Linked DNA regions of Homo sapiens. The protein of the gene in region 2 purifies or fractionates together with the protein of the main gene of each other region. This does not show direct contact. Each region holds a gene or a part of one and is shown on either strand. Other genes may lie near its edges.

Evidence for each region.
Region 1: the proteins of OGFOD1 (region 2) and ASNS fractionate together in Homo sapiens (co-fractionation; one large-scale study listed by BioGRID). This does not show direct contact.
Region 3: the proteins of OGFOD1 (region 2) and MCTS1 fractionate together in Homo sapiens (co-fractionation; one large-scale study listed by BioGRID). This does not show direct contact.
Region 4: the proteins of OGFOD1 (region 2) and ISOC1 fractionate together in Homo sapiens (co-fractionation; one large-scale study listed by BioGRID). This does not show direct contact.
Region 5: the proteins of OGFOD1 (region 2) and STK26 fractionate together in Homo sapiens (co-fractionation; one large-scale study listed by BioGRID). This does not show direct contact.
Region 6: the proteins of OGFOD1 (region 2) and PLPBP fractionate together in Homo sapiens (co-fractionation; one large-scale study listed by BioGRID). This does not show direct contact.
Region 7: the proteins of OGFOD1 (region 2) and PRCP fractionate together in Homo sapiens (co-fractionation; one large-scale study listed by BioGRID). This does not show direct contact.

What each region holds. Positions count from the first base shown.
Region 1 is NC_000007.14:97,862,409-97,865,908, forward strand, and holds part of ASNS (asparagine synthetase [glutamine-hydrolyzing]), read right to left. Parts: intron 2,089-3,500; coding exon 1,851-2,088; intron 1-1,850.
Region 2 is NC_000016.10:56,468,554-56,472,053, reverse strand, and holds part of OGFOD1 (prolyl 3-hydroxylase OGFOD1), read right to left. Parts: intron 2,052-3,500; coding exon 1,972-2,051; intron 1,652-1,971; exon of another isoform or gene 1,568-1,651; coding exon 1,263-1,567; intron 1-1,262.
Region 3 is NC_000023.11:120,617,601-120,621,100, reverse strand, and holds part of MCTS1 (malignant T-cell-amplified sequence 1), read right to left. Parts: 3' UTR 1-3,500. UniProt on the Homo sapiens protein: Translation regulator forming a complex with DENR to promote translation reinitiation.
Region 4 is NC_000005.10:129,108,249-129,111,748, forward strand, and holds part of ISOC1 (isochorismatase domain-containing protein 1), read left to right. Parts: intron 1-3,500.
Region 5 is NC_000023.11:132,054,302-132,057,801, reverse strand, and holds part of STK26 (serine/threonine-protein kinase 26), read right to left. Parts: intron 3,172-3,500; coding exon 2,941-3,171; intron 1-2,940. UniProt on the Homo sapiens protein: Serine/threonine-protein kinase that acts as a mediator of cell growth. Modulates apoptosis. In association with STK24 negatively regulates Golgi reorientation in polarized cell migration upon RHO activation.
Region 6 is NC_000008.11:37,769,145-37,772,644, reverse strand, and holds part of PLPBP (pyridoxal phosphate homeostasis protein), read right to left. Parts: intron 1-3,500. UniProt on the Homo sapiens protein: Pyridoxal 5'-phosphate (PLP)-binding protein, which may be involved in intracellular homeostatic regulation of pyridoxal 5'-phosphate (PLP), the active form of vitamin B6.
Region 7 is NC_000011.10:82,890,431-82,893,930, forward strand, and holds part of PRCP (lysosomal Pro-X carboxypeptidase isoform 1 preproprotein), read right to left. Parts: intron 1-3,500. UniProt on the Homo sapiens protein: Cleaves C-terminal amino acids linked to proline in peptides such as angiotensin II, III and des-Arg9-bradykinin. This cleavage occurs at acidic pH, but enzymatic activity is retained with some substrates at neutral pH.

The DNA.
Region 1 (3,500 bases), on a different chromosome or scaffold from region 2:
AAGTGAGAGAGAAAGCAAAAAGATCAGTAATGACTGGGGGGTTAGGAGGAAGAGGACGGGAGGAAAGAATAAGTGGAGCACAGGAGATTTTTAGGGCAATGAAACTGTTCTACATAATACTGTAATGGTGGGTACATGGCATTAAACATTTGTCAAATCCAAAAATCTATAAAACACAAAGAGTGAACCCTTATGTAAACTATGAACTTCAGTTAATATATAAGTATCAGTTCATCAAATCTAATAAATGTAGCACAGTAATGCAAGATGTTAAGAGTGGGGAAAACTGGGCAGGGGCACTGTAGGGGGAGCATATGTGAACTCTCTGCACTTTCCTCTCAATTTTTTCTAAAACTGCTCAAAAAAAAAAATAAAGTCTATTATGTTTTTAAAATAAAATGATCCCTAACAGGAAAAAAAAATGGCAAAGGATCTGAACAAATATTTCTCCAAAGAAGATATACAAATGGCCAATAAGCATAAGATAAGATGCTGGACATCACTGTCAACAGGAAAATACAAATCAAAATCACAATGAGATACCACTTCACATACACTAGAATGGCTAGAATTAAAGTCACACACTGTTTGTGAAGATGTGGAGAAACAGAAATTTTAATACACTGCTGGAGTGAATAAAAAATGATGCAGCCATTTCAAAAATTAGTCTGGCAGTTCTTCAACTGAACATAGTTATCATGTGTCCCAGCAATTCTACTCCTAGATATACACCCAAGGGAAATGTCCACACAAAAACTTGTACACCAATGTTTATAGCAGCATTATTCATAATAGCCAAAAGGGGTAAATAATGTCCTAAATGTCCATCAACTGACAAGCGAATAAACAAAATGCAGTGTATCCATGTAATGGAATATCATTTGGCCATAAGAAGTAAGTACTGATACATGCTACGGCATAGACAAATCTTGAAAGCACTATACCAAGTGAAAGAATCCAGTCACAAAAGCCGGTATGATATATAATCCCGTTCATATGAAACATACAGAATAGGGAATCCAGAGGCAGAAAGACTGGTGATTGCCGGGGCTACAACTGCAGGGGTGCAGCTGATGGATATGGAGAGATGGAATTCAAAGCTAAAGGGCACAGGAGGCAGGGTGTTGTGGTGCATGCCTATACTCCTAGCTACTAGGGAGGCTGAGGTGGGAGAATCGCTTGAGCCCACGAGTTCAAGGCTGCACTGAGCTATCAAACCACCGCACTCCAGCCTGGGCTGGGCGACTGAGCAAGACCCCATCTCTTCAAACAAACAAACAAACAAAAACCTAGTTGATCCTGCCAGCAAAAACTAAGGTAAAGGGCATAGGATTTGATTTGGTTTTTTTTGAGGTGGAAAAACAATCCTAAAACTGATTGGAGTGTTGTTTACCAACATCTGTGAATATACTAAAAACCACTGAACTGTATACTTCAAGTGGGTGAATTACATGGTATGTGAATTATCAATAAAGCTGTTTTAGAAATCCTAACACTTGCTGTGCTATAACTGCGCAAAGTACCACAATGCAATAATTGCAGAGTCAACCCTACGATTATAGTATGACACAGGAAAACTTAAAACTGCACTTAAGATCAAGCTAGATGTAGAGCATATTAGCACAGCAAAAAATAAACGACTGCACTAAAGAATCATCCTTCAAGGATTACAGAATTTAAGTGCTGAAAAGGAGAGTACAACTCCTCTGTTTTTTTAAAAAAAGGTAAAGACTCATAACTTAGTCACTTGTAAAATTCTGGATTGCTCTCTAAGAGATTTTCAAATATAATTTAAAAGAAAACGTACAACCAAGACAATAATGAAAATCTATAGAAAAATTTATTATTACCTTTAGCTTCTGAACATACAGCCAAAAATCCATCTTCTGTCATTGCTTTAAACAAAGGTCTGACTCCATATGTATCTCTACCCAGGAACACTTTCTTATTGGCAGTATCCAGTAAAACAAATGCAAACACACCATCCAACATACAAATTGTTTGCTCAATTCCTCCTTTGTCATAAAGATGAAGGATTATCTCACCATCCACTTTGGTCTGGTATTCAAATTCAAAATGCTGTTGCATCTTAGGAAGCGAAAGCAAAACCAAAATGTTAGACTCCTTGTACATTCACTAATAATTTTTTATTGCAAAGATGCTTCAGTATTTCTGAGCTCTATAATCCTTTCATGCACTTTGGTGATTTAGGAGAATCACAGCATTATTAAACTATGGTTCGCTTCAACTCATATTCTGCAAATTCTGTTCAACATAAAGCCGAACCCATGAAAATTTTAGTTGCAGTCTGATAAACAGAACATAATGGGAATGTGCCAGAACAGTAACCTGTGGAGGGATGGAAATGTATATTATATACATACCATATATGTAATACATACATATATTTATATATATACAGATTGAGTATCCCTTATCTGAAATGTTTGGAACCAGAAGTGTTTTGTGTTTTGGACTTTGGAATATTTGCATATATGTGAGATATCTTGGGCATGAGACCCAAGTCTAAACATGAACTTCATTTATGTTTCATATATCTTATACACAAAACCTAAAGGTAATTTTATATAATATTTCAAATAATTTTGTGCATGAAACAAAGTTTGCATACATGGAACCATCAGAAAGCAAAGGGGTCACTATCTCAGCTACCATGTGGAAAATCTGTGGCTGTTTGACATCATTGACCATCATTCCTGACTCTGAATTTATTATGCTGCTGATGAGCAATCATTTTCATATGCTTATAAAATATGACATACCATTAATACAGTAAGAAAGTAATAAGTAGCATAGTAGAATCACCAGAATACCTGCATCAGCTGTTAAACAGCTGTACAAACAATGGCAGGCTTTCAGACTCCACCTACAATGCTGCGTTTTGATTAAAAGGTTACTATACACTGTATTTTTTTTTCCTTTTTCAGGTGAGAAGAAACATCAGAAGCAGCTGAGCAACTAGGAAGCGGGTCCTCTGAGATTGAAGAGGCATTCGGCCAGATGACTTTTAAATGTTTCTCCAGAGTCATCTGCTTCATTAACAATGGCTTTTGTCTTGGAAGGCTCTCTTTGATTTTATAAACTGACATGACCTCTTGTTCTGTTATGAATGCAGGTAGCTCTAGTCCTTCAATATCTCTATCACACATTTTCACCATGTCATCTATACCTTTATACTACAGTCCAGTTTCTCCTACAGCTTGACTTTCTGTGTTATAAGTGTTTCTACTTTTCCTTATCACTGCTGCTCATAGAAATATCTACAGGTCTTTTTGACATTTTCAGTATCTTAACACCACAGAGCAGAAAATAAGCAAAAATACACAATGGATAATGCACATAAGTCCCATCTGTGGGGATCCTGCCAATGGCGTATCCAGCTTGAACATGTGCCATTCTATTACCCTTTGTGGGCGTGCTTGCATGGGGAAATCCGGGCATGTGTAGAAAAGTTATACTGCAGCTGAAGCGGGCTGAGA
Region 2 (3,500 bases):
GGAGGTCAAGGCTGCAGTGAGCTGTGATTGCACCACTGCACTCCAGCCTGGGTGACAGTGCAAGACCGTGTCTCAAAACAAACAAACAAACAAACAAACAGAAGTGGATAAGTTTTTTAAAAAATCCCTTTGAGACAGACTCCATGGATACTGACTCTGGTTCCTCTTAGGGTCTAGGCATAAATGCCAGTATCAATTAACATGGAAAACTAATCTTTCAAAGAAAGGCTACCCTGTGTATTAAGATAGCACAGAAAAAGCCACCTGGGTCTGGTTTTACTAAATATCTGCAGTGGCCAAAGTGACTGTTCAGTCAGTTTTGGAAGGCCACAGAATGAGTTATGTTGCTTTCAGTTAGCATCTCAAACCACTGATTTTGTTTCCACAAGTATCCACCCCTTGTCTCTGCTCTCCTAACTGCACAGGGTTCTCAAGAAATTTGAGTGGAAGCAGGGAATGGTAAACTGGGTGACAGATGTTCTCACTGACATAGTAGTAAGTGCTGAAACATCTAAGCTGAATTTGTTGCTACTTTTTAATGGTGCCAATATTTTCACAGGAGTGTTACCTCTTAAATTCTTAGGCTGTTATATTCAGATCTGAGCTTAAATGGCGCTCCTCAGAGAGACTTTTCTAAATCATCTATTCGCCTAAGAGGCTACTCAGTCATTTCTTTTTTTTTTTTTTTCTTTGAGATGTAGTCTCGCTCTGTTGCCCAGGCTGGAGTGCAATGGTGCAATCTCGACTCACTGCAACCTCCTCCTCCCCGGTTCAAGTGATTCTTCCACCTCAGCCTCCTGAGTAGCTTGGATTACAGGCGTTCACCACCATGCCTGGCAAATTTTTTTTTTTTTTTGTATTTTTAGTAGAGACGGGGTTTTGCCATGTTGGTCAGGCTGGTCTCGAACTCCTGGCCTCAGGTGATCAGACTGCCTCCGCCTCCAAAAGTGCTGGGATTATAGGTGTAAGCCACCGCACCTGGCCTACTCAGTCATTTCTTGTCATATAACCCTATTACAATGTTTTGCATAGCACTTATCATTACTTGACGTTTTCTTGTTGTTCATGTATACATTTAATCTCTGTCTTCTTCTACTAGAATGTAAGCTCCCAAAGACCAGAGACCTTGTCTGTTTTGTCCTTCAGTTCCTGAAATAGGGCTTAGGGCACAGTAGATGCTCAATAAATGTTTGTTGAATGAATACATGTTTGAATGGTGAATGGTTAATGGTAAGTAAGGACAAATCCTAACAACAGCTTACCTTTCTTTGTTTCATTTTCCTCTGGCTCTGGGTCTGTCTGCTCATTGCTCTGTTGGCTGTTGTTGCTGATGGCCATCTGATTATTCTCTGGCTCAGGAGGACTATGGCTAGTCCCTTCTTCAGTGATATCAGTGGTTTCTGCCTCTTTTTTATCATTCATCTCATCTTCTTCCGAAGGGGCCAAGAAATGAAGCTTCAGGCCTGTGAAGTTGGAGAGCAGCAAGAATAGTGCCTCAGAGCGAAATAACTTCATGCACTCCTTCAATATCTCAGGAAGCTTACTCTCCTCAGCTTTCTCATAAAACCTGAAAAACAGCAATGTCAAGTTGTTCATCAAAGCCACAGATGTAAAATGACTCACAGAATAAAAGCTGATCGTTAGCTTTGTACCTCTCTTCCTAAATCTTGGCACAGCTTACTAAGGCACAAGTTATTACAATAGTGAGATTTTGTTAGGATTTTGTTAGGACATCCTGCTACTGGATGTCCCTGAGAACAAAACATCATTAGGGCAAGTGTCCTATTATTGGGTGTGAGCCTTGGTGCATGATTGTATATTTTTTCCTGTTGGTTATTTGATTTTCTTTCATGAACTGCCTGTCATCACCTCAGTCTATTTTTCCTTTAGGCTTTTTGTCATTTTACTAGTTATAAAAAAATGTTATAGGTGCTGAATGTAGAAGCAAATATCTCAGATGACGGGTTCTACCTTTTGTTAGGGGGACCTCGGCTGCTCCATTCCACATGTCCATGCTCCAAGGCCTCACAGACTTTCGTGAATTTCTCAGGCTAGAAAATGAGCAAATAAAGAAGCATTCAGCAGATCTCCCTATTACCCCGCACTGGTTTGGCAGGTACAGCAGCTCTGCCAAACATCAATCTGGCTGATTCCTAAAAGGTGCAGTTGACTCTCATTCCTTTTTTTTTTTTTTTTTTTTTTTGAGATGGAGTTTCACTCTTGTTGCCCAGGCTGGAGTACAATGGCGTGATCTCGGCCCACCACAACCTCCACCTCCTGGGTTCAAACGATTCTCCTGCCTCAGCCTCCCAAGTAGCTGGGATTACAGCCATGCACCACCACGCCTGGCTAATTTTGTATTTTTAGTAGAGATGGGGTTTCTCCATGTTGGCTGGTCTCGAACTCCCGACCCTCAGGTGATCTGTCCACCTTGGATTCCCAAAGGGTTGAGATTACAGACATCAGCCACTGCGCCTGGCCGACTCTCACTCCTTTCATACAAGATCCCCTACTCCTCCTGTGGTAAAGCCAGGGTGAAGACTGGATACATCATTGGCTTGCTTTAGCCAAGAGACCTGAGTGCCATTGTGGCTCATTCTCTTAAGTAGTTATATACCTTACGTCAATCTGCTCAACCTCCCAGACTGCTGCATTTATAAAATGAGGATCATAATACAGACCATAATACAACTCACAAGATGTTTTGAGGATAAAAAATTAAACTGCATTACAATCAAGGTCATTACCGTGACAATCTCTGTATAACAATTCCGATTCTCTAGGCCCCTAATTTAATAACCATTCTAAATTCAAAAAGTTAGGTACGACACAGGAAGCTGGTTAATCCATTGAAATATTCTCCACAAGAGGCTTTCCATTTATTTGTTTAATGCAGTTTCCCAAGCAGTCCTATCAGTTATAAATGCATGAAAAAGGAAAGATCCCATAGCATGGTTTAGGTAAACTGAATTGAATAGGGTATTCAGTTTATTTACTATAATACTTCTCAAAACCTTAATATGCTAATGTCAGCTATAAAATTGCTAGAGAGAGACAGGATGTAGAGTCTCAACCTTTTTTCATGGAGGAATAGCTCTTGGGACCATGGCTCCATGGGACCCACAGTCAACTGTAAAGTGCCATGCCAGCAAAAGTTATCTTATTGGCCCTCACAACAACTCTATGAGAAAGACAAGGCAGGTATGAATCCCAGTTTAACTGAAGACAAAATAAATACCCAGAGTGATTTAGTGATCTGCCCAGGTTAGTAAAACCACAGAGCCAGGGCATGAGAATAAGTTTTCTGATTTCTTTTTTTTTTTTTTTTGAGACGGAGTCTCGCTCTGTCACCCAGGCTGGAGTGCAATGGCGCAATCTCAGCTCACTGCAACCTCTGCATCCCAGGTTCAAGTGATTCTCCTGTCTCAGCCTCCTGAGTAGCTGGGATTACAGGTGCATGCCACCATGCCCGGCTAATTTTTGTTATTTTTTCTAGTAGA
Region 3 (3,500 bases), on a different chromosome or scaffold from region 2:
ATATAATCAACAGGAAAGAATAGATAATTTACATTATTTATTAAGTCTTTGAAATCCAGGGTGTATTTTAGTTACAGCACATCTTAATTCAAACTAGTCACATTTCAAGTTCTCAGTGGCCACATATGGATGGGCAGAGGCTACCATATTAGATAGCATAGGTCTAAGCAAGTCCAGAAGTATGAGACCCCCCAATAGCTAAACATGAATGGGAGAAAACTTAGTTTCTTCTAAAAGTTGTATTTATTTTTCTGATTTTCTTGAATGCAATGGAAACTGCAACCTGACTTTTAGCAAGCCCCAGGCCATCTCCTTGCATGACTTTAATCACTGGATTTTTCTTCCCAAAAATTAAATCATTGGATCCGGAGCAAAATGTAGATTAGGCCCCTCAATGTTTTTTCCCTTAAATTATAACTGAACCCAAACTCTTCCTGTCATTAATTTTAATATCTTTTTTTTTTTTTTAGACGGAGTCTTGCTCTGTCGCCCAGGCTGGAGTGCAGTGGCACAATCTCGGCTCACTGCAACCTCCGCCTCCCAGGTTCAAGCAAATCTCCTGCCTCAGCCTCCTGTGTAGCTGGGATTACAGGCACGCGCCACCACGCCCGGCTAATTTTTTTTTTTTTTTTTTTTTTTGTATTTTTAGTAGAGACAGGATTTCACCATGTTGGCCAGGGTGGTCTCAATCTTCTGACCTCATGATCCACCCACCTTGGCTCCCAAAGTGCTGGGATTACAGGCACGCGCCACCATGCCCAGCTAATTTTTGTTTTTTGTTTGGTTGGTTTTTGAGACGGAGTTTCGCTCTGTTGTCCAGGCTGGAATGCAGTGGTGCGATCTCAGCTCACTGCAAGCTCCGCCTCCCGGGTTCATGCCACTCTCCTGCCTCAGCCTCCCGAGTAGCTGGGACTACAGGCGCCCACCACTGCGTCCGGTTAATTTTTTGTATTTTTAGTATAGACGGGGTTTCACGTTAGCCAGGATGGTCTCGATCTCCTGACCTCGTGATCCGCCCACCTTGGCCTCCCAAAGTACTGGGATTACAGGCGTGAACCACCGTGCCCGGCCTTCCCCAGATATCTTCAAAGCAACTGCTAGTCCTGCTTTTGCACATTACACTCTACATTCTCATTGCCCCACTTAACTAACCCTCCCTCATGTCCTTTTCTAAAGATGTAGAAGACTTTGAAATAGCATAACATTTAAATGGTCACAAATCACCTGGCTTGAAAGTGACTAATAATAGGAAAATCAGACCTCAGGACTGAGTTCAATTTCAAGATTCTCCCACTCCACTTTGCTAAGAGGGAAACAGAAAAACATTACTCCAGCCACACAAATATGATACTGTGCAAGTATCCCACTCTTACTCATTCAAATCCTACCCATTTTTTCCCATCGTGGAACAGAGTCTTGCCAACTTATACCTCTCTCCAATAACCCATAAAGATGGTGATTTGAATTTGGGCCAAGATTTAACATTTTATGAAATACAAGAGGAGAGTTTTCTGCAAAACACAGGATTTGCAGACAAGGAGACTTAGGTTCAAATTCCAGTTCTGCCATTTATTACCTCAGAGAGGTCATACAACTTTCCTGAAGTTGTATGACCTCTCTGAGCCTTAGTCTCCTCGTTTGTAAAATGAGAGTTAAAATCTACCTCATGGAATCATTGCTAAGATTAAGCAAGATATATAAGTAGAGCTTGTGCACATGGTAGGTACTTGGAGAATGTTATTTCTCCTTCCCTCTTACTCATCTGGACAAGTTTAACTAGAATTCTAAACAGTTAAATATGTATCAATCCTTTGTATTAAATATCTTGATGGTAAAATGTTAAAATATTGATGTGAATAACAGCTGGTATTGAATATTCAAATTAGGGGAACTCTTTCATTGTTTTAAGATAACATCTGTACATTTAATCTGTGCCATGCAATAAAACAGCTTTTCCTGAAACAGCTTTTTAAAAACTATTTTTAAGAAATTCATAAGTTACTTTTAAGAACATTAGCTTAGAACATCTTCCCCTTTCACAACAAATTAGACATTAGAGCCAAAATTGCCCAAATTGGTATAGTTTCTATCTCCCTACACTTTAATCAAGATGTTTGTCTTTATATCAGCAAAAACCGCTACTTAAGTGAGATTCCTGCATCCCAATAAATGTATCTGGGCATTTGGTACTTGAGAGAGGATTGGGTTTGACAACACCCAGAAGCTAATGAGGATGTGCCTTCTCTCAGACCTTTGCATTCAGGAGCAAGAAAGCAGAAATACTTTGTGGACTCCTTTTCAGACACTTTACAAAATACAAAATTTTAACCTTGTGAAACACAAAATAAATGCAGGATAAATGTCCAAACATTTTAGCCCCTACTGTTTTTGAAACTGAATAAAGCCATGATAGTGAAAAATATTTTCCAGTCAGTGCTTTTTGGAAGCTATTTAGTAGATATTAATTTGATGGGTTAGAGATTGCTATTATCCCATTAAATGAAGCTGTTTCTACTTCATATTCAAATATATTTCAAGTTGAACTTGCTTAAATCTAAAATGCTTACACAAGCAAACTGTGGAAAGAATTTAGTCACGCAAAAGAAAACTTTTTCTTAATCCTGGATAAGTCAACTCTAAGAAAGCTGTCCAGAGCCTACAGAGCAAAAAGGACTTTCCTTCCAGCCTCCTCACCATGTCCAATCTAGTCCAGATGTGAAGAGTCAATTTTGGTTTTAAACAAAATTTGCATGCAGCAGCATTAGAACTAATGAAAACAGTATCCAGACTAAGACGTGCATACAAAATCTTTCACATCATGAGAAACTAAAAATTTGTTAAAACATCAGTCGGCAGGAACAGACATCTCAAGCTCCACTGATAAGGGAAGCAAAACTGGAACTACATGCCGCTTTTAAAAGTGTCTCAAATTTAAGCTCACTCAAGGACTATTAATAGACAGTGTCAAACTGACATGCCGTTTCATCATTAAATCATCTTATTGGTTTGCAAGTTTCCAAGCCTCAGGGCTTCATTATGCATCAGCATAGGACAACACCAGAATTTGGGGACAAAGACAACATCCCTTTTTGAAAGAGGTGGTAAGAATAAAAACAGGTTGGCCAACCTTGGAAGCCACCGCAGTATGGCTTCCCATGAACCAAAAAGGCAATTGAATTGTATTTGTTTTCAAGGCATACGTTTGGAAAAATAGCACTTTTTCCAAGCATGTGCTTAGTTAGAACAAATGATTTATTGCTTAAAACCCAGTCTTTTACTCACACGCTTGTGAAAATAAGAAGAAATTACCTATTTCACCATAGATTATTAAATGGACGTTAACAGTTATTGACAATCGAGTCTTGTGATAAGAAATTAAAATTATAAAGTAAATCTTCCCGTCTTTAAATTCTAGGTGGTAGAGTTCTGAGAACACTTACAATGAACTTTAAGGGAGTAATTGATTATGCTTTTGAAGTCTCCTATATTCACATATTGGC
Region 4 (3,500 bases), on a different chromosome or scaffold from region 2:
ATCAGAGGAAAGAAGGGATGAGTACAGGGCCACAGGGTGGTGGGAAGCAGGCAGGTAGCTGGCCACAGCAGGTGTTTTAGGGTCCTTATTGGCTCTCCCTTCTCTGTTATTGCTGAAGCAGAATCCTATACTGAGATTACAAATAGAAATTATTTATTTTGTTTAGCTATTTTCAAGTCCATTAGGCTATTAGATTATCTGGTAGTTAGGTACTAAGTATTGCTGCTTCTTCCAATCTCAACAAAGACCTTTAATCCATTTCTTTTTTTTTTTTTTGAGAGATGGAGTCTTGCTTTGTCGCCCAGGCTGGAAGTGCAGTGGCACAATCTTGGCTCATCTGCAACCTCCACTTCCTGGGTTCAAGCAGTTCTCCCTGTCTCAGCCTCCCGAGTAGCTGGGATTGTAGGTGCCTGCCACTGCACCCGGCTAATTTTTGTATTTTTAGTAGAGATGGGGTTTTGCCATGTTGGCCAGGCTGGTCTCGAACTCCTGACCTCAGGTGATTTACTTGCCTCGGCCTCCCAAGGTGCTGGGATTACAGGTGTGAACCACTGTGCCCGGTCAGACCTTTAATCTATTCTTATAGTCATGAGTTAATCAATTCCTACTTTTCAGGTTTTCCTGGTAACCTGAGTTTAAATACTTCATTGTCAGGTCCTCACCACCTCAGCCAGCAGCTCTTTCAGCCACTGTGGATAAACCTTTATTGTAATGCTGAGGTCCAGAACTTTGGAAATAAAAAATGAAAAACACAAAACAAACTTCCTTGCTTGTAAAAAAGGACTTTTTTCAAGGACTTTTCTCCTACATTCATATTTTCTTAGATATGTCTTTGTTATGGCAACTTAATGACAAAATTTTGATTGGCAATTCTGTCTTTGCACAAGACTCAAGATTAAAAACAATTCCCATCTGAACCATTCTTTTTAGAGGCAATCTGTAATCTCTCGGATTAGGAATCCACACAATGTGGGGATAATGTGGGTTTGAAGGCAGGTTCTGGTGTTTTGTAAATTTGTGACTTTGAGCAAGTTGTGTAATCTCTATGCCTCAGATTTCTCATTGGTGAAATGGAAATGATAATAGCAACAAGATCATAGGATTTTTGTGAGAATGGAATGAGATAATATATTGATAGCAGTTAGGACAGTGCATGACATAGTAAATACTCAGATGTTAGCTGCTGCTTTTTTTGTTGTTACTGATTGTTGTCTTCACGTGGTTAGTCACCAGAAATGTGTAAGTATATAACCTCTAAGACCCAGAAGGGACTAGTTCTTGGAAGTTCTGAGAAGGGAGGGAAAGAATCTGTTGTCTGGGGTGGATTTGGAAGGGCCTGGAGCACCAACATTGCCTGGGGTTAAAGTGTTGAGGTTGAAAGGGAAAACCGATCATAGATAAGTCAGGTGGTGATTGATAGGGAACACCTGCCATATTGCAGATTTTTTTCCTTTTAGTCTTGATTTGATACGGAGGCGATATACCTTGTTCCTAAATTTGAGGAAGGGGGCAATGTTAAGTGTTCTGGTTTGTTTCCATAAGTGTGAAAGTTAAAATACCATTGTGGTCCTCTCCCCTTCCTCTCTATTCCTGTAGAACATAACTACTGAAGATAATTCCCAAGACTAGCTATATTGCCTGTTAAGATTATTTTAAGATTCATAGTTTGCATTATTGAAACTTCACTGTACCAGGGTCTGTGGCATGTGCTTTATTCAAGAAATGTTTTCTGGGTATTTGTCATCTGAAAGACATTACTCCTTTCAATTAACAATTGTAGAGTGCATGAAGAATAAGAGAATAAAATCCTCTCTTGACCTTGATGTCCTTGTACTTCCGGGGAGTTTTAGTGTTGCTTGGAAATCTAATGGGTTTAGTCTTTTTCCCCCCTCTCTGAGGCTTTCATGACTTAGTGCACATGCATTTTTTAGGTTTGTGGGTCAGAGCAATCCTTCTTTTCCTTTGGCCTAGTTGGATTAGTTTTGCAAGTGTAAGGGGAGAACTTCAGAAGTCTAATGCACATGTACCTGTGTGCATTAAATGGCTGGAGTTTTAACTGCCCCTTTTTAAGCCAGGAGAGAAAGTGGACTTGGGACCAGCATTGTCAGGATGGTGGGCAGGGACTTGCTAGGTATGTCTGGAAAGCTCCTGCTGTTCTTTCTCTGCTCAGGCACGTTCTTTGGTTGGGAAAGGGCAGGCATTGTGGGAATGGCTAAGAGCCAGATTGAAAACCATTGCATTTGCTAAGCTACACCTTTCCCTAACACAGGTTCCTGGCTAGATGATTTTAAAACCCAGTCAGTGTTGGCCACATTTCAATCTTGAAGCAAAGTGATAGTGTATGGGTGTCACTTTCCTAAAATGTATTTCTGTGATGTACACTTCCCACTCTGCCCCTGCTATGGCCACCTGAGTCTCAGCATCACTGAGGCTTGTTAGGCTCAGGTCAGTAGAGCACTAGGGAGTGCTGGGCATTGTAGACAGGCTTCTTGTAGCGTCACCAGATTCCTTCCTTAGACCTGGGAACAGATTTATCTTTCCTGTCTCACTAAGGAACTGGGGAGATTATCGAGAACTAACCTTTATTGGCACATTGGAGTATACAGTGTAAAGCACTCTCACAGACATTGAAAGCCTGTGATTTAGTCCTTGATTCAGACTGAATCATTGCAAGTCCATTGATTCAACAGTGAGCAGTAAGGAAGGCAGGGCTGAGCAGGGCAGGCAGCTGGTGATGGGGAGAGCTGGACATGAATGACTTGACATTCAGTGCTGTTTTCACACAACTGGACTGCAGCTTATCATATTTATTATCTGCCTTTCTGTCTGAAGCAAGCACACGATCTTTTCATATTTTTGAATGGTTTTGATATGATTAATCAGCTGACTATAAAGCAAGGAGGAGGAAATTAGGGCTTCCAGAAGTCTTAAAAAAATACTCAGAGATAACTCACCCCTGGTGTGTGTCTGAGCTTATGGCCTTACTCCAGGCCCCCAACCCCCCCATAAATAGCTGCTGTTTTTGTTTTGTTTTATTTTGTTTTTTTTAAAAAATTGCTGCAAAGTTCTGGTTAGCTGCTCTGCACCCTTTTCTGTACTGGTCATTAAGGTCCAAGCTTGCTTTCTGACAAGTAGGTTATGGCTTATACTCCCTTATACTTCATTACGGATAAAAATAAAGAGTCTGCCAGTGGAAAGGTTCAGTCTGCTGATGTACAGCCATTGAAGGAAGACTGACTTACACTCTGCAAGGATATTTTGGCTATGCAAGGGCTTCCTGGGTTTTTGCCTCTGACTTACCTAGGAATTGTTTCCAACCACTTCCTCTTTCATGCTTTTTACATATATGCTTTTTGTGATAACAGTTTGTGTCTTTTTTTTCCCTGGGATTTCTGATAACACATAAATCCAGAGAATGAATCTGTGCTATAGAATTCTTCTATTTTCCTCCTTTCCTCTCTCTACCCTTTACCCCCGACTTTCTGTTCTTTGCTCTCTTC
Region 5 (3,500 bases), on a different chromosome or scaffold from region 2:
CAGTGTGTAATATATAGTGGCTGTTTGGCTGCTTAATGATTCATTCTACTATGCATTCATACCACATACATCCAATATTAGAATAAGTCGGGTTTTGTAAACAGGCAGTGAAATTTGTGATAAATTTCTATATCAGTATTAACCAATATAGATACAGATAGATGGAAAGCGATGACAAAGTCACCAAGACGGCAGAGGAGATACCAGTTTTAATCATCCCCTCCCTCCACATATACATAAAAAGCCCCCAAATATAGACAGCTATCCACAAACCCAAGTAACTCTGGAAGGATTCAAGGGCCTATTTAACAATCTGCAGCAACACAGTGGAGCAAAAAAGAAAGAATAACTCCACAGGAAGGATCACTGAGGAGATCAGCATACCTGAGAGGCCAGGAAATGTCTAGGAACAAAGATGAAAGGTGGAGGCTATTGGTATCACTACACAGTAGAAGCCATCATGGTCCCCAGTGGCCTGCTCTGCAGAGGACACTGGCATCTCTTGCTACTGAGGTAGTCAACAGCCATTTCTGCCAGGGAACCCCAAGAGGAATACATGACTACAAAACTCTCTCATCTCAAGAAGAAGACATTGTTGAGCCACATGGAGAAAGAAGCCACCACTCTGAAAACTGATGCAGCTCCAGACCTCTGAGTCATGGCCACTCCACTAGTGCCCACACTCCAGACCCAGATTCTGCGTCTTCACTGAGCTCAACCATACCTCAGACATTGGAGCCACTGCCACAGTGAGCTAGCTCACACCCCAGGGCCCCGGAGCCAAGGTTTCTCTGAGTGTGCCTATGCTCCAGACATCCACACAGTCACCACTGAAAGCTAGCCTGTGTTCTGGACTCCAGACCAGCTGAGTGGTTGCACTGGACCCACCCACAGCTCAGACACTTGAGCTAATCACTGCCATAGTGAGCTAGCTCACATCCCAGGCTCTGGAGACAAGGTCCCTCTGAGCGTGCCTATGCTCCAGACATCAGCTCAGATGTTACAAATAGCTAGGCCCTACGCCACCCTCAGAGCCACTGTAGCTCTGTGCAGCAGTAGGGGGTATTTGTACCTAGGACGTTGGTATTACTATTGGCTTGGGCCCCAGAGCATGTCCCTCCAGATATGCCTATGCTTGAAGCCTTAGTTCTGTGGCCACTCCATGGGCATCACTCATTAGACACTAGTGCCACCTCAAGTGGGCCCACAAGCAGACCCAATGCCAAAAGGGATCTACTCGGCTATGATTTCTCTGGTGGAAGAAAAAGAGACTGGGGGGACCCTAGCAGCTCTTGCCACCAAAGACCTCAAACAGCCCTCACCACTGTTGTAGACAACCAAGGTATTGACCACTGAGGATCCCTGCAATCTTTGTCAACACTAATCTCAAGTGACAAAGCTGCACAGGAACTATACTCCTATGCCCTCATTGGAGCCAGAACCACTGCAACCCACCCAGCCATTGCTCTCACACTGTCCTACAGAGGAAGAAGGTCTTTTCACACTGAAACCTGTAATGTCTGGAAGAGGCGATTGCTCTATCAACTGCAGAGACATCAACATAAGGCAATAATAAACATGAAAAACCAAGGAGACATCTCACCACCAAAAGAACACAGTAGTTTCCCAGTAGCTGACTCCAAATAAATGGAGATTTATAAACTGCCTGACAAATAATTTAAAATAATTGTGTCAAGGAAGCTCAGCAAACTTCGAGAAAATACAAAGAAACAAGTGAAATCAGGAAAACAATAAATGAACAAAATGATAAATTTAACAAGTAGATTAAATCATTTTAAAAACTCAGAAATTTCAAAGCTGAAAAATACAATGAATGAAATGAAACAATACAATAAAGTGTCAATAGCAGAACTGATCAAACAGAAGAAAGAATCTGTGAACTTGAAGACAGGTTATTTCGTAAAGGTATAGATGGATATCCGAAGTTTTATTTGGTCAGCAGAGGATAAAATGATAGCATTAATTTTTACGCAGGCCAACAGCTTAATTAGTTATAGATACGCTCTTTTTGGCCTATAGATCAACCAGTAACAACAAACACTTCCCTCCTTTTAAACCCTGAATGGCAAAGATCTAGCACAGCCTTCATTTGAAAAACTGCAATACAAGGATAAACAATTTTAATTTTAAAATGATTCAAACTCCAAACTAAGCTAGAGTTCATGGGGGCTTTTCTTCAACTATTTATTATTCACATTTCAACAGACACGAATCCTGACTTCTAACTCTGGAACCCAAGGACCACTGGGTTTTACCAACCAGTTTTCTGCTATGTAGTAACACCTCCATCTGCTGGAACTTCAGGTGTCTGCTAATCCCATGATCCTGGAACCAGTAAAAATCCAACTTTTATTTGGAGGGGGAGGCAGATGTTATTCCACTTAATTCCATTTTAACAAATATTTACCACATGCTTAAGATGTACCATACCCTGTGCTAAGGAATGTAAGTACCAGGACTGGTTAAGCTAAACTCCCTGCTATGAAGGAGCTCACAACCTGGTGGGGGAGAGAAATGTGTAAATAACTACCATAACTCAATGAAATAAGTGACATACTTACATGTTCCATCAGCTCTGAGGTTGAGACAGTTAAGACCATTGAGAATAGTGTCTGGAAACCCAGGGGGATAGCTCTTTCCTGACAAAGGAGATGTCTCCAGGACCAGCTGCATTTCTGCTCCTCCATCAAACCAAAAGTTCAGGTGTGGAAAAGGGGTGCAGCTGAGTACTGGGATGCATTCAGAATACAGCTGCTAAATCTAACAACGGTTTATTTGGCACTATAAATGGAGCTGGATTCTGCCTGGAAGCCATAGACTGCCAAATCCTAATTTAAGACATTGCCTTTCAAAAAAATAGAATTAAAAAACTTCTAATGAAAATACCTTATGACTTAAATAATACAGCACACACATTACCTTTAAATATGACCCATAGTATTTTGTTACATATGAGCTGTCACATTGACTCAAGACAGTTATTTCTTGCTGAATGTCTTCTATTTCATCTTCGGCTTCCTCAAGGTCTATGATTTTAATAGCAACGACTTGCTGGGTACGGTTATCAATTCCTTTGAAAACTTCCCCAAATGAGCCTTTCCCAATGCGCTCTAATTTTGTGAACAGTTCTTCTGGATCAGCTATGTTATTCTGAAGGGAGTGGGGAACGAGAAAAAGAAAGAACACAAATGTTTTGAATCAAATTTTTTTAATGAAGGAAAATAAATCACATAAGACAATAACACATTTTTGTAAAAGCATACAAACTCCTCTGACTCCCCACATGTGCTTTGTTAGAACAACTGTAATCCCAAACAGGCAGCTAGTCCATATTCTAGTGAATCATACACACTAACTGAGCTTAGCTGATCCTGCTATCACAAACATTCTCACACAGCAAATATATCCAGTGCATGCCAAAACATCAGGCACTTTTTGGAATAAAGCCGCTGATTATACACAGTTTACACATTAATGCA
Region 6 (3,500 bases), on a different chromosome or scaffold from region 2:
CACAGTTAAATCTCAGTTCCTCTGAGAAGACAAATGTGACAGTTTTACTAGATACAAATTCAAATGTCAGACCATCCCTGGCTAATCAGCAAAGGTAAATAAGGGAAAAGCTGACATACATGATCAGGCAGCATATACATCCATAAGCTTCAAGAAGCTGGTAACGGACAGATTCCTAGTAAAAGGCTTGATCTATGTCTCAGTTCAAACTGAGAGAAACAGGTCAGGATGACAATGAAGAAAGGATGACCAGTGGAAGCCAAGATGCTTCCCTAGCATATCACCACAATTCTTCAACTTTCTGGGATGAGGGTATTCTTATCCAACAAGGACATCACCATGACCCTAACACTGGCCAGGTGTGGTGGCTCACACGTGTAATACCAGGTGGGTGGATCACCTGAGGTCAGGAGTTTGACACCAGCCTGGCCAACATGGTGAAACCCCATCTCTACTAAAAAACTGCAGCAATCCACAGGACAGATTATCACAGTTTACATAACTATTCCTCGTTAATGGATATTAGATTGTTTCTTATTTTTTATTACAAAAACAAAGCTTGGATATAGAACTTGGTGCTATGTACAAGTATTTCAGATGGGCAGTTTGCAAATATTTTCTCCCATTCTGAGTTGTCTCTTCACTTTGTTGTTTCCTTTGCTCTGCAAGAGCTTGTTTTCTTTTGGAGACAGAGTCTCGCTCTGTCGCCCAGGCTAGAGTGCAGTGGCACAATCTTGGCTCACTGCAACCTCTGCCTCCTGGGTTCAAGCTATTCTTCTGCCTCAGCCTCCCAAGTAGCTGAGATTACAGGCACCCACCACTACACCTCACTAATTTTTGTATTGTTGGTAGAGATGGGGTTTTGCCATGTTGGCCAGGCTGTTCTTGAACTCCTTACCTCGTGATCTGCTGGCCTTGGCCTCCCAAAGTGCTGGGATTACAGGCGTGAGCCACTGTGCCCAGCCTGCAAGAGCTTTTTAACTTGATGTGATCCCATTTGTCCATTTTTGCTTTGGTTGCCTGTGCTTTTGGAGTATTTACTCAAGCAATCTTTGTCAAGGTCAGGTGCAGTGGCTCACACCTGTAATCCCCACACTTTGGGAGGCTGAGGAGGGCAGATCACTTGAGGCCAGGAGTTCAAGACCAGCCTGTCCAACACAGTGAAACCCTGTCTCTACCAAAAAATAAAAAAATTAGCCAGAGATGGCTAGGCATTGTGGCTCACGCCTGTAATCCCAGCACTTGGGGAGGCCGAGGTGGTCGAATCACTTGAGGCCAGGAGTTTGAGATCCATTTGGCCAACATGGTGAAACCCTGTCTCTATTAAAAATACAAAAAAAATTAGCCAGGCCTGGTGGCACATGCCTGTAATCCCAGCTACTCGGGAGGCTGAGGTAGGAGAATTCCTTCAATCTGGGAGGCAGAGGTTGCAGTGAGCCGGGATCACGCCACTGCACTCCAGCCTGGGTGACAGAGCAAGACTAGAAAGACTAAAAAAGAAAGAAATATACATATATGTATTTGGCTTCAAGTGATCCTCCCACCTTGGCCTCCCAAAGTGTTGGGATTACTGGTGTGAGTCACTGCATCTGGCCTCAAGAAGCCTTTATGGAAATGAATTGAGCTGTGAGGTTGAATGAGTATAACGGATCATCCAGAAGGGAAAATGGCACTAAAACAACAGTTCTGTTAGGTTTTCCTGCCCCTTCTATGCCTGCTGGCTCCTTCCCCGCTCCCTCCTCCCATCACCTTTACATATTTCTAACATGGCTAGGTGCAGTGGCTCACACCTGCGATCCCAGCACCTTGGGAGGCTGAGGTGGGCGGATCACCTGAGGTCAGGAATTGGAGACCAGCCTGGCCAACATGGTGAAACCCCGTCTTTACCAAAAATACAAAAATTAGCCAGCATGGTGGGGCGTGCCTGTAATCCCAGCTACTTGGGAGGCTGAGGCAGGAGAATCGCTTGAACCCAGGAGATGGAGGTTGCAGTGAGCCGAGATCATGCCACTGCATTCCAGTCTGGGTGCAGAGTGAGACCCTGTCTCAAAACAAACAAACAAACAAACAAAATTTGTCCAGACTAATGTCTTGGAGAGTTTCCCCAATGTTTTCTTTTAGTAGTTTCAGGTCTTGGATTTAGATTTAAGTCTTTAATCTATTTTGATTTGATTTTTGTACATGGTGAGAGATAGGAGTCTAGTTTTATTCTTCTGCATATGGATATCTAGTTTTCCCAGCAGCACTTATTGAAGAGATTGTCCTTTTCCCAATGTATGTTCTTGGCACCTCTGTTAAAAATAAATTCTCTGTAGATGTACAAATTTATTTCTGAGTTCTCTATTCTGTTCCATTGGTCTATGTGTCTGTTTTTATGCTAGTTTTGGTTACTATAGCTCTACAGTATAATTTGAAGTCAGGTAATGTGATTCCTCCAGCTTTGTTTTTTGCTCAGGATGGCTTTGGCTATTATGGGTCTTTTGTGGTTCCATATAAATTTCAGGACTGTGTTTTTCTATTTCTGTGAAGAATGTCACTAGTATTCTGATAGGGACTGCACTGGATCTGTAGATTGCTTTGGGCAATAAGGACATTTTGACAATACTGATTTTTCCAATTCATGAGCATGGAATATCTTTCCATTTTTTCATGTCCTCTTCAAATTCTTGCATCAGTGTTTTACAGTTTTCATTGCAGAAATCTTTCACTTCTTTGGTGAAGTTTATTCTTAGGTATTTCATTTGTAGCTATTGTAAATGGGATTACTTTCCTGATTTCTTTTCCAGATCATTCACTGTTGGCATATAGAAATGCTACTGATTTTTGTATATTTATTTTGTATCCTGCAATGTTACTGAAGTTGTTTTTCAGTTATAATAGTTTTTTGGTGGAATCTTTATGTTTTTCCAAGACTCTACGGTTTTAGAATCTCCTGGTAAGACGAAGGAGTACTCATTTACTCACTCCCTCAAAACACTGGATCTTAGCAGTCTTTTTGATTTTTTACAAATCTGATTAGTGATTTTGTATTTCTCTGAGGATGAATATTTTTCATTTGATTACTGGCCTTTTGTATTTTTACCCCTTATAAATTGCCCCAGTTTTTGCCTATTTTTTTTCCCTATAAACAAAAAGATTTGTAGCTCTTTATGTATTCTGGATATGAATCTCTTCCCTCTTCAAAAATATTATTTTTCTTCCACTCTGTGCCTCCCTTTTGCTTTGACATGCAGAAAGCTTTAATTTTTGTGTGATCAAATCTGCTAGTTGTTCTTTTAAAATTTATTATTATTAATATTATTATTATTATTAGATAGGGTCTCCTCTGTCATCCAGGCTGGAGTGCAGTGGCACAATCACAGCTCACTGCAGGCTTAACCTTTTGGACTCAGGTGATCGTCCTACCTCAGCCTCCCAGGTAGCTGGGACCACAGACACACACCACTACGCCCAGCTAATTTTTTGTATTTTTAGTGGAGACAGGGTTTTGCCATGTTACC
Region 7 (3,500 bases), on a different chromosome or scaffold from region 2:
ATGCTCTTGTTTTTTCATTAGATCCCATTTCCTCTTGCCTAAGATATCCCACTACCAATTCTATTTCTTTCTTGTTCCGTCACTTTCTCACTCTCTCGGCTCATTTCCCTTAGCATACATTCGATTATTTCTCCCATCTTAAAAATGGGAACCCTCTCCCCCTCCATCTACCACACCATATTTCTGCTCCCCTTCACAGCAAAATTCCCCAAAAGATTACCACACTCGTGGTCTCAATTCAGCTTCTCCCATTCTCTCTTGCATCCACTCCAATGAGGCTTTCGCCTCCACTCACCCTCTGAGGAAATTGCTGTCAAGGTCACCATAACCTCCACATTGCTAAATCAAGTGGCCAATTCCCAGTCATTTATTTAGGCACTACTGGTTACCTTCTTACGGAAATGCTTTTTTCATTAAGTAATCAGGGTATCACACCCTCCTGGTTTTCCTCCTCCAACTGTTCCTTCTCAGTCTCCTTAACTGGTTCCCCATTTCCCTGACTTCTAAATATGCAGTGTTGAGAAGATCATCTTTAAAAGAAAAGATCATCTTCACTAACTCCTTTGTTGCTCTCTTCCAATCTCATGGTTTTACATACCATCTGTATACTAACAGCTTCAAATTTGTATTACTTGCCCCACCTTTCTTCTAAATTCTTGACACAATACCATTTCTGAAACCAAGTTCCTCTTCTCCTTCCTTCCCCAAACCTACTCCTTCTGCAGCTTTCCCCTTCTTGGTAAATGACAACTCCTACCTTCTAACTGCTCAGGCCAAAAACCTTGGAGTCATCTTCAATTCTTTATCTCACAACCTACATCTAATTCATCAACTATACCTCTCAGCTACACCTTCAAAAATATCCAGAATCTGAGCACTTCTCAGCCTCCACCACTACCACACTAATCCAAGCCACCATCGTCTCTAATCTGAAATTTTGCAACAACCTGGTCTTTCTGTTTACCCCCTTTCCCCTACATAGTCTATTCTCAACACAATAGCCAAAGTGTTTCTTAAGATTTATTAATCAGAGTCATTCTTCTACCCCTAAAGCTCCAAAGGCTTCTCATCTCATTCTGATTTACGGCCAAATTCCTTACAATGGCCCAGATGTCCCCGCATTATCTGGCTCCCTGAACCTCCTTTCTGTCCTCCTCTAGTACTCTCTCCCTGGGGCATGTCCCTCCAGACATACCATCCTCCCTACAGTTCCTCCCACTGAGCACACACCTACCTCAGGGTTTTTGCACTTGACCTTCCCTGCCTAGACATTCCCTGTGCCTAGAATGTTTTTCCCCATGCCTAGAATGCTCTTTCCCCAGTGCCTCGAATATAGTAGGCACCTAATAAAAAATTAGGTAAATGAATTTAGACAGACATTGAACATTCATTTTCCATTTTGCTTTTTTCATTTATTATTAACGCATAAACATTTTATCACATTGTCAGAATACTTTAAGACCATAATTTTTTGGGCTAACAATATTCCATTTTATAGACATACCACAAGTTATTTACAATTTGGGACTGAAAAACCAGGATATTTACAAATGGGATATTTTGGATGTTTCTTCCTTTGATATTTGTGAACTTCACTTCACTTTTAGAAGTGAATCTACTAGTGAGAATATGTACCTCACAGGATTGTTGTAAAGCTGAATATGAACTAATAAGTGGACACAGAGACATCAGTTTTGTTACTACTGCTTAGATTACAGAGACATCATGATGTCAATGAAAGATCATAGATCTTGAAAGAAACAGATAAAAAACATGACTCACAATATTGTCCTTTAATAGCTTAAGACACTTAACCTCTATGAGTTTCAATTAAACCATCTATTTCAAAAAGCGATTATATTAATAATAATTAAAAAGAGATGTAAAAGAGTTTAGCATAATATTGAGCTCAGAGTAGATAATCAATAAATGTTCATTCATTCACTTCTCATAAACAATACCTAGGGTTTTTAAAATTGTGAACCAGAAAGAAAAAAATATTTTTATAAATTATCCCATTACATACATATTGTTAAATAGATAATAAAAATTTTCAGTACAGAATTATTCTTTTTAATTAACAATTACTCAACACTTACCAAAGCACACTTAAGATTACAAAAATCTATATATCAATTTTGTTTCTTTTATTATAATAAAGCTAGGCAAAACAATTATTTTTAATTACTGAATGATGGTATCAATAAATAAGTTCCTTTTTATCATGTGCTTTAATGTACACACACAACAGGTCAGTAAACTATTATAATGATGACAAGTTAAGCAAGAAAACATTTTAAAAATTCGCCTCACTTCAGGGCTATTTCTTGAAGCAATCTGTGTGTTGGAGTCAGATGAATGCCAAGACATTACAAAATTTTCAGTGTTTTCCATGTTGTTTCGATATAAGTTTGAGTATATGCAGTTGGAATGGTCAACAAGTACAATTTGAACTCCTTCAGGGTATAGTCATCTATGCCTGGCCAGGACCTAGCCCAGTGCCTGACATACAAAAGACACCAGATCAGCACTGAGTAGGTAGGTAGGTGGGTGGGTAAGTGACTGATTGAGTATGGTAGTCATTAGTGCTGTCTGTCTAGGCACTACAAAGCCAATACTTTTTGTCTCCCTACCCTGTGATTGGGTACAGTCATTTAACCAGTTCTAGCCAAGGAATTGTGAGAAGAAGTGACATAAGTAATTTCCATTTTGGAGCATTCATATGAGATCTTCCATGTTCTTTTTCCACTGCTAAGTGTTCATGAAAGCATATGCTAAAAAGGAAACCCCGATCAGCCACTTAGTCTCTGAGTGAAAGCAGGAGCACAGCCCCCTGCTCATTCAATTGGAAGTTTATGACAGTAAGGGTCATACATTTTGTTAGGTTAAGTGACCGAAATTCATAAATTTTACTATAGCAGCAAAACCTAACTTATCCTGGATAATACAAGCAAGCTAATGGCATTCATTTCAGCACTAGAAATTAATCAGAGTTTAATTTCAGAAAAACAAAATGGTACAGATAAGTAGTATAGCTCAGTATAATAATTTAACCTCTCTATATGATAGTTCTCTTGCTCGCCGAGTTTGATGGCTCCTGCCTGTAATCCTAGCACTTTGGGAGACCAAGGTAAGAGAATTGCTTGAGGACAAGAGTTCAAGACCAGCCTGGGCAACATAACGAGATCCCATCTCTACAAAAAGATTAAAAAATTAGCCAGGCATTGTGGTGTACACCTGTAGTCCCAGCTACCCGGGATGCTGAGGTGGGAGGATCACTTGAGCCCATAGGTTCAAGGCTCTAGTGAGCTATGATCACATGGCTTCACTCCAGCCTGAGTGACAGAGCAAGATCCTGTCTAAAAATAAACAAACAAAAAGGATAGTTCTCTTGCCTACAAAATGGAATAATAGCATCTACCTCATAGAACAGTAATAGGGATTAATTAAGTGAATGTCTATTAAGTACTTAGGATAATATTTACGGTATTTGAAGCTTT